2 linked regions of the Homo sapiens genome follow. The protein of the gene in region 1 interacts with the protein of each later gene in a pairwise test. Each region holds a gene or a part of one and is shown in the gene's direction. Other genes may lie near its edges.

Region 1 (7,027 bases):
TTATATTGTGGCTAATGATGTTAATTAGTCTCCCAGAATACCACTAATTTTGAAACCAGTAACAGATCACAGAAGCAGCACACTATGGCTGTATATCAGCCAAAGAGGTGCTATATTTCATGAGAAGTTATCAAAAGCATTTATCTTTTGGGAATTCTATTTCTTTCTTTTAGAAGTGAATCTTAAGTGTGAGTTGAGGGGACAGATTTATGACATTATTTGACTTCAACTGTAGATAAAATAGGAGCGACTGTAAATCTGGTACCGTGTCAGGAAATTAACCATAAATATTTTTATTCAATTCTGCTCAATGACAAATATTTATTTCATCACAGAGAGGGGAGAAAAGAATTTTTCATTCAATATTTAGAGAAAATATTGTAAATACAAGCACCTTTAGTAGTAGTAAAGTATGACGATTATTTAAATCTCATTAAAGCTTTAGGTTAGAAATGTCTGACATCAGGCTGTTTCAAGTAGAGAAGATAACGTAAGCAACTGGGGCTGGGAAACCTTAAGAAGAGTGGGAAGTTCTTGTTAGGAACAAGGAGGAGTTCTCCTTACCACAAGCCTTAAAGGGTTGCATGTGGGTAGAGAAAAAAAAGTATGACTGAATTTGAAATTCTTCTTGATTTAGTATCATGGACTAATCTTTACAACGCCACTTTATCTCTTCTAGAAACCTATAGGGAGAAGATACACTCTACATAAAAAATAAGTGGCCTATGAAAATTATTTTATTAGTAGTTAATATTATACTTATTAGTGATAATATTTTATTTAGCCTATTCTATATATTTCCAGTGAAAAAGGTAAAATAGTTACCTAGATTATGATTTTGCTGTAATTATAAAGATCATTAGTTTTCCAGTGAGTGTCCTCTCTGCTTTGCTGGTATTTCAGAGAAAGGAAGTTTCTACGTAACAGTTTCTTTCTCCATCCCCTTCAGTTGATGGGGTTTTATTATAAGGAAGGAGAAATAAGTAAAGAGTCCTATCATTGTTGACGTTAGGCTTTGTGGAGAACTGGCACCTTATTCAGGATACCACAGAGATTCCAGTGTAAGATAGAATTCCGAAGCTATCATTTTTGTGTCGTGGCTTCTCTTCATACAGGTTCTATATGCTACACTTTGCATACACTATTGCATGTAGTCCTCACACAGAGTAACTCTAAGAGTAGTAGAAAAAAATGAAAGTTTATGGCAGCTAAATATCTTGCTCCAAATCATCCAGTTAGTGGAGCTAGGATTTTAACTCTGGTCTGCCTTCAAAGTCCAAGCAAGTTCTTTTACAAATACTTTTTCTCTGGGGCAGGATGAATAGAAGTAGGTAGATATATGATATGTAAAAACATCTCAAATACACAACTCTTTTGTTTTTTAGATATCTAACCTAAGAGCATATTTCTAACCTCTTTGTTTCCTATTTTATTTATTTTAACATATTCTGTTGTAAAAATGAAAACCCTTAATAAGTAAAATCCAGATCTATATGCAAGACAAATAAGAAATTATTATTTACTTTGTTAATGGCTCTTTGGCTTATTATAAAAGGTTTTCTTTAAATATCCCCCATTAAAGTGTATGTTTTCATTAAAAATCCAATTAATAAATATTCTTAACATTTGCTATCTTAGATGCTATCTATCTTATAGCAGAAAATATATAGAAGACAAGATACAGTTTTGAACTTTAAATAACTTGAATCAGTAATGATGGAAGAAACACATACAAATAGTAACAGAATCAAAAATAGGAAACATGTTGAGAATATATGCTGCTCTGAGGGTTGTAAAAAAAAAAACTAACAAATGAGGTGAAAGAAGGATGAATAGGAAAAGCACATGTGATTTTTAGGGCAGTGAAACTACTGGTGTATATACATGTCTCTATGTATTTGCCCAAACCATAGAATGTACACCAACAGTGAATCCTAATGTAAACTGTGGGCTCTGGTTGATAATGAGATGTCAGTGTAGGTTCATCATTTGTAACAATTTTTTTTTTATGGTGGGGGATGTTGATAATGGGGAGGGACTATATATGTGTAGGGGCAGGAGGTATATAAGAAATCTCTGTACACTCAGTTAAAGTTTTCCATGAACCTAAAACTACTCTAAAAATAAAGTCTACTAAAACAAAAATAAAACACACACTCACACACAAACAAACTAAGAAACTCATTGCCAGAATGGGATTTGAGGGAGAAGTAGAAAGGGATTTGAGGGGATTTGAGGGCTGTTAGGTAGAAAGATAGCTGGAATGGAAGTAATCATATCTCCTGTATGTGTACCCAGGTAGGCATGAGGGCAAAGCATGAGCAAGTGCCCTCTTGCCTGAGATATGGGATGCTTGTCCTCAGTTGTTAAAAGAGGGGGATGGAAAGGCAGGAGGAGGCCATATCCTGGAGTGCCTTGACAAACAGACTAAGTTGTTTTCGTTTAATTGAGAGAGTCAGTGCTGGTTGTTGACCTAGCAAATTGATTGTTAGGTAAGTTGCTTTGGGAGTGGTGGGACTTGATTAGAGAGAAGAGGCAGGAGACTCATGAGGAATTTCAAGCAGAAGGTGGCTCTGCCCAGACCAGAGAAATAAGAATGGAAGGAGGGGATAGATAGGAAAGATGATATGGTAATAAAATGTGCAAGACATAGAAACTGAGAGTTAAGGTAAAGAAGGAGCTTGGGTATCTAAGAGAAATTTTGAGAGTAAAGAGCTAGAAAGAAAGACTCATGGGCAATTAGGTAAGAGATTTTCATGAGGTCAATTTTTAAGAACCCATTTACTTTTTTTAAAGAAGGTATATTGCACTTCTAGAACAGGTGATGATTGTATTTTTTTGTTACCTAAGGAATGAATCCATGCTAACTAAAGACAATATTATGTAAGCATATAAAAGCACCTGTGGTTTTGTCTGCAAAATAGAGTCGATGTTACTTTAAAAGGATATTATGGGGTTTAACAGAGTTTCCTACTGGTATTGAGATATCTAATGGCTTCAGACCATATTAAGTATTGCTAGCAAAAAGCTATAGTGTGATAAGCATTATTACTGTAGTAAAGAATGAATGGTGCTTTCTTTTCATCTCTATTGCTCTGAGGGATGGGATATTAGTTTTCCTTCAAAAAAAGCTTCTATCTTAATTACAGAAATGCAAAGATGTCTGTAGAAATGAGTATTTTTCATTAGGTTGCTGGGTGCTTCCCACAAAATTGGATTTCTTGTGGTAAGTGAGGAAGGGTAAATGGGTAGTGACTAGGCCACTGGCATTGTGTGCCACAATTATATGCCAGGCCCTGGGATTAGCATATATCGTCTCGTTTAATCCATAAAACCCTGTATATTTGGCTCTGTAATAATCTTCTTTGAACAGGTTAGAAAATGTAAAATAAAATCATTTAATTGGCTTGTATTTAAATAAAACAGCTGGTAAGACTTTCTGAATGAGGACAGCTGCAGTGGGAATAGTAAAGTGCAAATGGATGAATACAACATACATTTAGGTGTGAGAACTAAACAGCCTTGGTGATCAATTGGATATGGGTTTGAGCAGATTTAGGGCCAGGAGTTATTTAGGATGGCTCCATGGTTTCTGGCTTGCAAATCACACATAGAGTTATTCCATTCCCTGAGATAGGGGATATGTGAGGAATATATGTGGGAGAGGAGATTATGAGTTTGAGCTTAGGCATGCTGTTTGAGATGAGTGTGAGATATGCCAGGAGAGAGATTTAACGGGCTACTGATTATGAGGATTAGGAGGCTTAGAAGATAGGAATGGACTGAAGATAAAGCTTTTGGGGTCATCAGTTACAAATTAATTATTAAAGGCATGGATAAGTGTATAATATTTCTCAAGGGCAATGCGTAGAATAGAAGATGAAAGGGCTATGTGTGACACCCAGGGGAACAACAGCCTTGAAGGGGAGGGCAGAGAGAGAAGCTTACAGAAGGGACTTGATAGGAGTGCCCAGAAGTGAAAAATCCTCAGGGTACACACAGTTTCATTTTAGAGTTTAGTGGTGCCATTTCTTTGTGAAATAGCTGTTACAATATTGCTCCTCCTCTACATCTCTCCTCTGTCCTTATTGTGTTGAATGGTATATTTTGCATTTCCATTGTGAGAAGATATAAAACCATTTCATTTAAACTGCCAGTACATGTTGTATGGCTGACATGGGTATTTGTACAGTTGTTTCAAAAATTGCAGGCAAGTTTTGACAGAAATACTGGTGAAATCTTCAAAATAACAAACGCTTATCCTTTACAACATCCTGAGGCTGGAGACAGGGGAGATAGGGCCTATTATAGTTTTTTCTTCAACTAGTACTTTTATTTCAGGAGTCATTCTTAATTACAGATGATAGTAACTTTGAAAGCTTTATACACATGTATACCTCACCAAAATGTAGCTCAAATAGTCTAAGTAGGAGTATTCATGTAAAACAAAAATATCTTGGTAAACAGACATTTTTATCATGGAAGTTTATATTGTTTATACAAAACTCCTCAAATAACATACCTATGACTAGGATAAAGTAACTCATGTTTCTGGATACATTTCATGATTATACAGTTGTGTTTATTTTTTCATTTTTGCAAGTATATACTGTAACAACTATAAATATTTGATTAATAGGAGTGTCAACAGACTGAAAGAACCCTTATAAAAATAACACTATAGTTATGTCAAGTGAATTTAGTTAATTTAGTTAAGCTATATAAACCAGCAATGAAGTTCCTGGTTTTCTCTCAATTTTAATGTAAGTTGAGATAAGAATATTTCAAAAGGTACTTAGTAGTCATAGGCATGTTCAGAATTAAATTAGAAATGTTAAAGATTTTTTTTTAGCTGGGCATGGTGGCACGCCTGTAATGCCAGCTACTCGGGAGGCTGAGGCGGGAGGAGAATCACTTGAACTTGGGAGGCGGAGGTTTCAGTGAGCTGAGATTGTGCCATTGTACTCCAACCTGGGCAACAAGAATGAAACTCCGTCTCAAAAAAAAAAAAAAAAAAAAGAAAGAAAGAAAGAATTTTTATGGAAAAGTAGTGGCAATATATTTGAAGTAGTTGTTCAATAGAGTAGTAATAAAAACACAAATTTTAGGTAGATTCTAGTTTCAAATATGGAGTAGAACTTGCTCAGTTCTTTTTAGCATCAGACCAAAATTAGTTTTCTTATTTCAAGCAAAAGAAAAATAAAGCATAAAATATTTGGAGTACTGCAAAACTCCAGTGTATTCTAGATTCCATGGCAAAACTAATCTGTATTCCTTGAGATAAATTTGCATAACTAAAATTGTTAGAGTATCCTATTTATTTCTGGGTTTTTTTTTCTAATCTATGATTGGTAAATTGACATCTAAAATAATTCAAAACATCTTCAAAGAGCCTTCCCAAAGGCTTTCTTACAGATCTTCTAATCTTATACTTCTTTCTAGTTTCTGTCTATATTTTGTATTAAGTATAAGGTAGGTTGCTTTTTTTGCCTCTTTACTAAATAAATGGGGGTATGAATGTTTTTGATTTTATTTGTATAATGCTTCATATCACATAATTTTTAGAATTCCATAATCATAATGCCTTGGTTTAAGAATATATTAATTTTACTTAGATTTAAACATATAGCCATTTAAGGAATTACATTTTTAAAAAATAAAATCATTTCTTTGTTCTTTTACTTATTGATCTCACTATATATCAGTAATAATTTTTCATGGGGGGGATAGGCTGGTTATTTTCTATATCTTAAAATCTGATTTTTTTATTTGTTGTAGGTTTTACTGGGATTTAATAATGCTTATAATGATGGTTGGAAATCTAGTCATCATACCAGTTGGAATCACATTCTTTACAGAGCAAACAACAACACCATGGATTATTTTCAATGTGGCATCAGATACAGTTTTCCTATTGGACCTGATCATGAATTTTAGGACTGGGACTGTCAATGAAGACAGTTCTGAAATCATCCTGGACCCCAAAGTGATCAAGATGAATTATTTAAAAAGCTGGTTTGTGGTTGACTTCATCTCATCCATCCCAGTGGATTATATCTTTCTTATTGTAGAAAAAGGAATGGATTCTGAAGTTTACAAGACAGCCAGGGCACTTCGCATTGTGAGGTTTACAAAAATTCTCAGTCTCTTGCGTTTATTACGACTTTCAAGGTTAATTAGATACATACATCAATGGGAAGAGGTAAGATGCATCTTTTTCTTTTTTAAATCTATATCATGAAATTGTTAATTATGGCTGTTTTACAATGAACAACTGTGCAATGTGTAATGAGTTTTATGAAATTCAAGTAGAAAAATGTATTCGACGACTCTTTTCCATGCATAAGTGATATATTTGTATCCCTAAAATATATGATCAAATAATGGATTTGAATGAACTGAAAAAAATAGTGATCGTTTTATGCCAATTTATTTTATTTTTAAATAAATGCACTTTAATCAGCAATTATTATCTTGATCAATACAACCCCTTTCCCACCTTGGTTTTTTTTAATCTAATATAAATACATCAAGTACCATTATTTTGATAAAGATGTGTAGGGTCTGATTGCTAATCTGGCACATCATTAGCTCTGTGAGATAGTGTGGTTTTTGTATCCTCTAATATTGAAGTTTCATTGAATTCATGATTGGGTAAAACAGATTGTTTCTTTATTTCCAAATTGTATATATAAAGGCTTTGATTTTAGCATATTAATTTTGCTTATTGTTATGCCTTGCCTATAGTAACTTATTTTAGTTTCTCCCTATTAGTTCATTTCATAATACTAAAAAGGAACATATTCATGAGGGACATTAGTACATAGAAAACACAAAGAGTATAGTGAATAAATGGAGTGAATCTGACCAATCAGGCCCATATTTTGCTGAATAGAGCATCTGTTGTTAGGCAGTGGGTGGGACCTGAGAGGGCTCAGCCAACTGGAGTTTCCAAAGATCTGAGTTAAACCATCATCAAGCAAAGGAGTTCATATCCCTATCTTCAAAGTCTGAATATTAACCATTT
Region 2 (7,027 bases), on another chromosome or scaffold:
CATCATTAGACAATGGTAGCGTCATCCAGACATGGTCTACAGGAAACAAACAAAAAACAACAACAGAGAAACTGCAGCATCTGCAGCTCTGCGGTGCTGCCCCCATCAGCTTGAGCCTTTAGAGCCACAGAGGACCTGCTGATGGGAGTGGAAGAGGAGGTCAGACAACAGAGAGCTGGTTCCCTACTCCTTGGGACCTAAGGCTAAGGTGGAGCTCAAGTCTTACCTGCAGATCCTAACGGCCTGATGCCACAAGGGTGTCTCTGACTGTTCTAACAATCTTAGCAGTGCTGACCAAGGTGAAAAGCCTCCCTTTCTACAGTGAGATTTAGCCATTGTTTTCTTGCCCTCTCATCTCATCCCCACCTTTCACTGCAGTAATGGGAGGCTGTTCTCCTTCTTCTGCTACAGAGATTAGTGGTAGGGCCATTTTTCTTTTCAAACTTGGCACCCTCTATGAAACATAGGAAGGCCCCATTAAAGTCCCATCTTCTCTGCCCCAGATAGCTGATAGCCTATTTAAGGAGAGAAAGCTTCTTACACTTTTGAAAGGGTAAAAAATGATTCACGGTGACACAGTAAGTACACAATAGTGGATGAGAGAGTCTGAATCAGGCAAGAGAAGAGATTAGGAAGAGCTAAGGCTATTGTCTTCAAAAGCCAAATGCAACTCCCCTCTGCATAAAAAGCTGATGGGGTTTCCATTTCTGACATAGGGCAATGCTGGTGCCTACATAGCCACTTCGGCACCATTAGAGTCCTAGTTCTGTTAAAGATGTCCAAAGACATTCTTGGAGGGTACTCAGGGTCTCAGACCTCTACTGTGGTCAGTCTTGGAAAGTTGAAGCTTTCCTTGAAAGACCTTGCTGAATGATCAAGATCACCGCAGGTTAATGCTCTCCAGGGAGACAAGCCAAGTCTTCTCTTTTTTCTCCATTATGAGATTGGAGTACAGCCTAATTAAATAGCAGGAAGGGGCTGGCCCCTTGGAGACTGGAGGTGACAGTGGCTGCATATAAATCCATAGCTTGATAGATCCATTTCTAAAATTAGCTACATTTGATCTTTTTTAAGCTCTTCCACCTGGTTTTTGTTTCATTTTGTTTTGTTTGCCCCTCCCTATCTTACTGTATTACTGTCACCTGGGCTACCATGATAGCATCTTTATAGAAAAAAATTTAAACTAGTGGATCCTAAACCCAGTGACACTCTAAGGTCAATTGGGGGCTTAAAAAAATTATCAGGCCCACTCCCAAAGATATGGATTCAGCAGTTCACAGGTAGGGCCCGGGAATATGCATTTTTCAATAAAAGTGCTGCATCCTGTTGGTCCTCAGACTGACTTTGGAGTACATTGATCTAAACCACTTCTTCCAGTAAAGTAGTTTACGGAGATACGTATAATACAGGATTTTCGAGTGTGGTGGAGGAAAGAAAAAGATGGGGACAAAGGAAAGGTAGGAGTGAGAATAAAGCACGCATGGTGAACCACAAATAAAAATCCTCCGTCCCCACTCAAGTTGATTATGCAGAGCAGTAATTCTAAATAGCCTCTTTCAATCAGACTGTGGGGCACTCACTACTGCCTCCCTGACCCAGGGCCCCCAAACGTGCTGAAATCCACAGCTCTGTCGTTCTTCTTCACCACTGCAGATGTTAGTGTGGCCATTCATTTCTCTTACTCCACCCGGCATCCTTCCAGCCACGGGCTGCGATGCTCAGACGAGCTAAGACGATGCTCAGCGTTTGTCTTAGCTCCTCCAGGAGAGACCCCAGCTGGAGCTGGGCGTGCCGCTCTCCGGTTCCCTCAGGCTAAGCCGGCAGCAGCTGCGTGGTTGGGGGAGGGGACAGACTGCAGCGCTCTGCTCAGATCTCGAGCTGGAGGCCATCTTTGGCAGGGCTTCTGAAGGGCAATGCAAGACACAGCCTGATGTGGGGAGGAGAGCACAAACAAAGAGACCAGACATTGAAGAGCAATCAATGGTCAGAACACAGCACACTTCCTTCTGAAAGGAGCAAAGTTGTGCTTTTCTCTACAGTGATCTGTAAAATAGATATATGAAATCTGCAACATAGAAGTTCAAGGAAATCTCATCTGTCTAGAACTCAGCTCCCCAACCACCTCTTATTCAGAAAACACAGCTGTGAAACAAAAATAATGTTTTAAGCAAGGACCTAATTAACCTGCTGATGAGACATATCATCTATCTCTAAGCCAAACATTAGGAACTTGGCACCTCTACTGCCCCCAGCCTATTCATTCTTAACACGATTTCAAAATGCTTTTTTATTTGGTTTCAAGACTGCAGCAAGATGGAGAATGGGGACCACTGGAGTCAGGCATTGTTAAGAATGAGCAGCAGCAGATCCGTTCATCTTTCAGAACAAAGAAAATCAATGAGCATCAACACTAATCCAAACACCGCACTTTGGGGCCATTTAGGGTAGAATTAAACAGCCTGATATACCTCGAATGACCTAAAAGATGTCACCGAATTATTTTTAAAATTGATTATTATCATGACCCTTAATTGCTGTGGAAGGTGGCATTATGTTTAGTGTCCTGATTGTGAGTGGTATAAGCCACTTTAGAAAGGCTTTTTATTCAAAATTGTTATTAAAAAAAAAAATCTGGTGCTTTAAGGTATATGCCTCCAACTATCCAATATTAAAGTGTTGTTATATGTTACTTTTCGTAGTTATCTAAGGGGTTGGTAATAGTGAGGGCTTGTGATTAATTTGTCTATATCATCAAAAGGATAGAGGGCCATGTGGTATGATATTATCAAGAATAAAAATCACTAACATTTATTGAGTTCTTCCTGTGTGCCATGCTGTTCTGATGCCTACTAATTTAACAGATAATGGACTCATCATATATTAATGTATATGTGAGATATATTAAATTGAAATCCTAATTTGAGGATCTCAGAACACCTTAGAAAAAGAGTAAACATAACTTTCCGTATGCAGAAGTAGAAGATTGGAAGGAACTAAAATGTAGAAAACTGGCTGAGGTCCAATGGATGTTAGTGGCAGAGCAAAAACTGCAACCCAAGTTCCTGATGAAATCCTCCTCTTATCTTCATATAGCATTCCTCCTCCTTCTTTGCATAATCATATTTTCTTCTTTCTCCTTTTTCCCTCACTCTAGACTCTTTTCCCTCTTACCACAGTAATATTGATTCTCTTGTCAGTAGCTAGAGGGTCTATGTCAGTGATTCTATGTCAGTAGCAGAATTGATTATAACCTCAAATAGGAACTATCAGGTAAAATTTCTTGGTAAAAATCTCTTTAAGGCCTCATGATCTCTTAACACACTTTGAAATATATGCATCACGGTCCAGTATAATACGTATTTTTCCTACTGACTGTCATTCCTTGTTCTGTACCCATCAGTCAATTGAGACTCCTCTTTGCAGTATTCCTGTCAATATTTATAGAACAGGTAGGTGGTATGAATTTTAATTCTGCAAATTCTCTTGATTTGGAAGTTTGTACCCCCTGATGTCTCAGCCCTACCTTTCACCATTGCTTTATCATTCTCACACAAGGGGAGTTTCAAGGGCCTGTCAACACTTACTTTCTTGAGGTTTCTGATATGTTTATCTGCATCACTGTTTCTTTTTTTTTTTTTTTTTTTGAGATGGAGTTTTGCTCTTGTTGCCCAGGCTGGAGTGCAATGGCACGATCTCAGCTCACTGCAACCTCTGCCTCCCAGGTTCAAGTGATTCTCCTACCTCAGCCTCCAGAGTAGCTGGGATTACAGGCACACGCCACCACGCCCAGCTAATTTTTGTATTTTTAGTAGAGACCATAGTTTCACCATGTTGGCCAGCATAGTCTCAGTCTCTTGATTGACCTGAACTCCTGACCTCAGGTGATCCACCCGCCTCAGCCTCCCAAAGTGCTGGGATTACAGGCATGAGCCACCATGCCCGGCCCTGCATGACTGTTTCTTAAAAATAACCCCCAATCATTGTGTCTTTTTTTTTTTTTTTAAGACGGGGTCTTGCTGTGTCGCCCAGGCTGGAGCACAGTGGCGCCATCATAGCTCACTTCAACCTCCGCCTACCGGGCTCGAGCAATTCTCTCAGCTCAGCCTCAAGTGATTCGCCTGCCTCAGCTACCCAAAGTGCTGGGATGCCCTAGAGATGTTTTCTTGTTATCGCAACTGGGAGAGGGAAGTATGTGCTTCTGGCATCTAGCCAGGGATGTTACTAAATATCCCGCATTTCACAATAACAAATAATTAGCCAGCCTAAAACATCAACACTGCCAAAGTTGTAAAACTCTGTTATAGAGGAAAGCAACAGAAAATAAACTAGTATAAACCAGTAAATTGCCGGGGCCGGACACTGTGACTCATGCCTGTTATCCCAGCACTTTGGGAGGCTGAGGCGGGCGGATCACGAGGTTAGGAGTTCAAGACCAGCCTGGCCAACATGGTGAAACCCCATCTCTACTAAAAATACAAAAATTAGCCAGGTGTGGTGGTGCACACCTGTAATCCCAGCTACTCAGGAGGCTGAGGCAGGAGAATTACTTGAACCCAGGTGGTGGAGGTTGCAGTGAGCTGAGATTGCGCCACTGCACTCCAGCCTGGGTAACAGAGCAAGACTCCATCTCGGAAAAAAAAAAAAAGAAGAAGATAATTTCATATAATGGTAAGAGCTGAGAGCAGGGTGGCTGCATTCAACTGAGTGCTTTTTTTCTAATTTGCACAAGGTTCCTGCATGGGCCAGTAGCTGCTCTGGCTTAAGGTAAAATAAAGTGCTGGGTTGGTCGAGGATGGATACTTAAATTGGATGCAAATGAAGACCTGTCTGAGGAGAGGACATTATATTTTATTTTATTTTATTTTATTTTATTTTTTGAGATGGAGTTTCATTCTTGTTGTCCAGGCTGGAGTGCAATGGCACGATCTCGGCTCACTGCAACCTCCGCCTCCCAGATTCAAACAATTCTCCTGCTTCAGCCTCCCTAGTAGCTGGGATTATAGGCATGCACCACCACGCCCGGCTAATTTTTGTATTTTTAGTAGAGACAGAGTTTCTCCATATTGGTCTGGCTGGTCTCGAACTCCCAACCCCAGGTGATCCTCCCGCCTCAGCCTCCCAAAGTGCTGGGATTACAGGCATGAGCCATCGTGCCTGGCAGGAGAGGACATTTGAACTGAATCTTTTTTGAGACAGAGTTTTGCTCTTGTTGCCCAAGCTGGAGTGCGGTGGTACGATCTCAGCTCACTGCAACCTCTGCCTTCCAGATTCAAGCGATTCTCCTGCCTCAGCCTCCCAAGTAGGTGGGATTACAGGCGCTTGCCACTGCACACAGCTAATTTTTGTACTTTTAGTAGAGACGGGGTTTCTCCTTGTTGGTCTGGCTGGTCTCGAACTCCCGACTCCAGGTGATCCTCCTACCTCAGCCTCCCAAAGTGCTGGGATTACAGGCATGAGCCATCATGCCTGGCAGGAGAGGACATTTGAACTGAATCTTTTTTTTTTTTTTTTTGAGATGGAGTTTCGCTCTTGTTGCCCAGCTGGAATGCAGTGGCGCGATCTCGTCTCACTGCAACCTCCCCCTCCTGGGTTCAAGCGATTCTCCTGCCTCAGCCTCCCAAGTAGCTGGGATTACAGGTGCATGCCACTGCACCCAGCTAATTTTTGTATTTTTAGTAGAGACGGAGTTTTGCCATGTTAGCCAGGCTAGTCTTGAACTCCTGATCTCAGGTGATCTGCCTGCCTCAGCCTCCCAAAGTGCTAGGATTACAGGTGTGAGCCACCACACCCGGGTGAACTGAATCTTCTATGACAAGGAGTCGGCCATGTAAAGACCGGCATTTTAGATAGAGGAAATAACAAGCCTGAAGGGCCTGGGACAGCAATGAACTTGGTATAGTTAAGGAGTAAAAGAAAAGACCAGGCTGGGCATGGTGGCTCATACATGTAATCTAAGCACTTTAGGAGGTAAAGGCAGGAGTGTCTCTTGAGGCCAGGAGTTCAAGACCAGCCTGGACAACATAATGAGACCTCATCTTTACAAAACAAAAATCTTTTTTAACTAGCCAGGCATGGTAGTGTACACCTGTTAGTCCCAACTGCTTGGGAGGCTGAGACAGGAAGATCGCTTGAGCCCAGGAATTTTGAGGCTGCAGTGAGCTGTGATCACACCACTGTACTCCAGCCTAGGCAACAGAGCAAGACCTTGTCTCAAAAAAAAAAAAAAAAAAAAAAAAAGAATTCCTTCTGGCTGCTCAAGGACTATAAATATATAAATATAAAGCGATTTCTCTTCCATGCCTCGGTGTTTTAAAAATTCTGTGGAGTATTTCTGCTTTCTCCTTACCTATAATGTAAAATGCTCTCAGTAAAGTGACTGATTAGCAGGCTTCTAGGAAATCATCAAAATGAATGGAGGCAGAGAGGTCTTCCTGGAAAGCTCTCTGTGCTTTCCACATTCGGAATTTTCTGAATCTAAGCTGCTAACCTGAGGCTTTGGGTTTTGGAAAGCACATGCTACAACAGAGTTATTTAGCAGCAACACAACAAGCAAGGGAGGGATGGTAAGTGTAAAAAAAAAAAAAATCATCTCCATGTTCAGTTCAGAACTATATGCCGTGTGGCTATCCTGAAAAGGGCAGGTGTTCACTTGCCCTCTGGGTAAAAGTTCCCAGTCCTCACCATGAGTCCAAATCTCCTGGGGACCTTTATGAAAAAAATGCAAATGCTGGGACCCCACCCCAGAACCAGTGAATCTGGATCTGGACTCAGGGACAGACCTGGATATAAGCAAGTTATAAGTTCATTAGATGATTTTAATGTGTAGTCAGGGCTGGGAATCCTTGCCTTCTGGAAATCTTGAGGAATTTCAGCTGGTTTGGCCTAACTATTTTGGATATGTTACTTTTCAGGATAGCATTGGGCAGCTGGAGAATGATCTGAGGAACACCAAGAGTGAGATGGCACGCCACCTTCGGGAATACCAGGACTTGCTCAATGTCAAAATGGCTCTTGACATTGAGATAGC

Evidence for each region. The genes of interacting proteins can lie anywhere in the genome.
Region 2: the proteins of HCN1 (region 1) and INA interact in binary tests that used the Homo sapiens proteins (3 or more experiments, as listed by UniProt).

Annotation. Positions count from the first base shown.
Region 1 is NC_000005.10:45,644,360-45,651,386, reverse strand, and holds part of HCN1 (potassium/sodium hyperpolarization-activated cyclic nucleotide-gated channel 1), read left to right. Parts: intron 1-5,778; coding exon 5,779-6,202; intron 6,203-7,027. UniProt on the Homo sapiens protein: Hyperpolarization-activated ion channel that are permeable to sodium and potassium ions. Displays lower selectivity for K(+) over Na(+) ions.
Region 2 is NC_000010.11:103,280,124-103,287,150, forward strand, and holds part of INA (alpha-internexin), read left to right. Parts: intron 1-6,911; coding exon 6,912-7,027. UniProt on the Homo sapiens protein: Class-IV neuronal intermediate filament that is able to self-assemble. It is involved in the morphogenesis of neurons.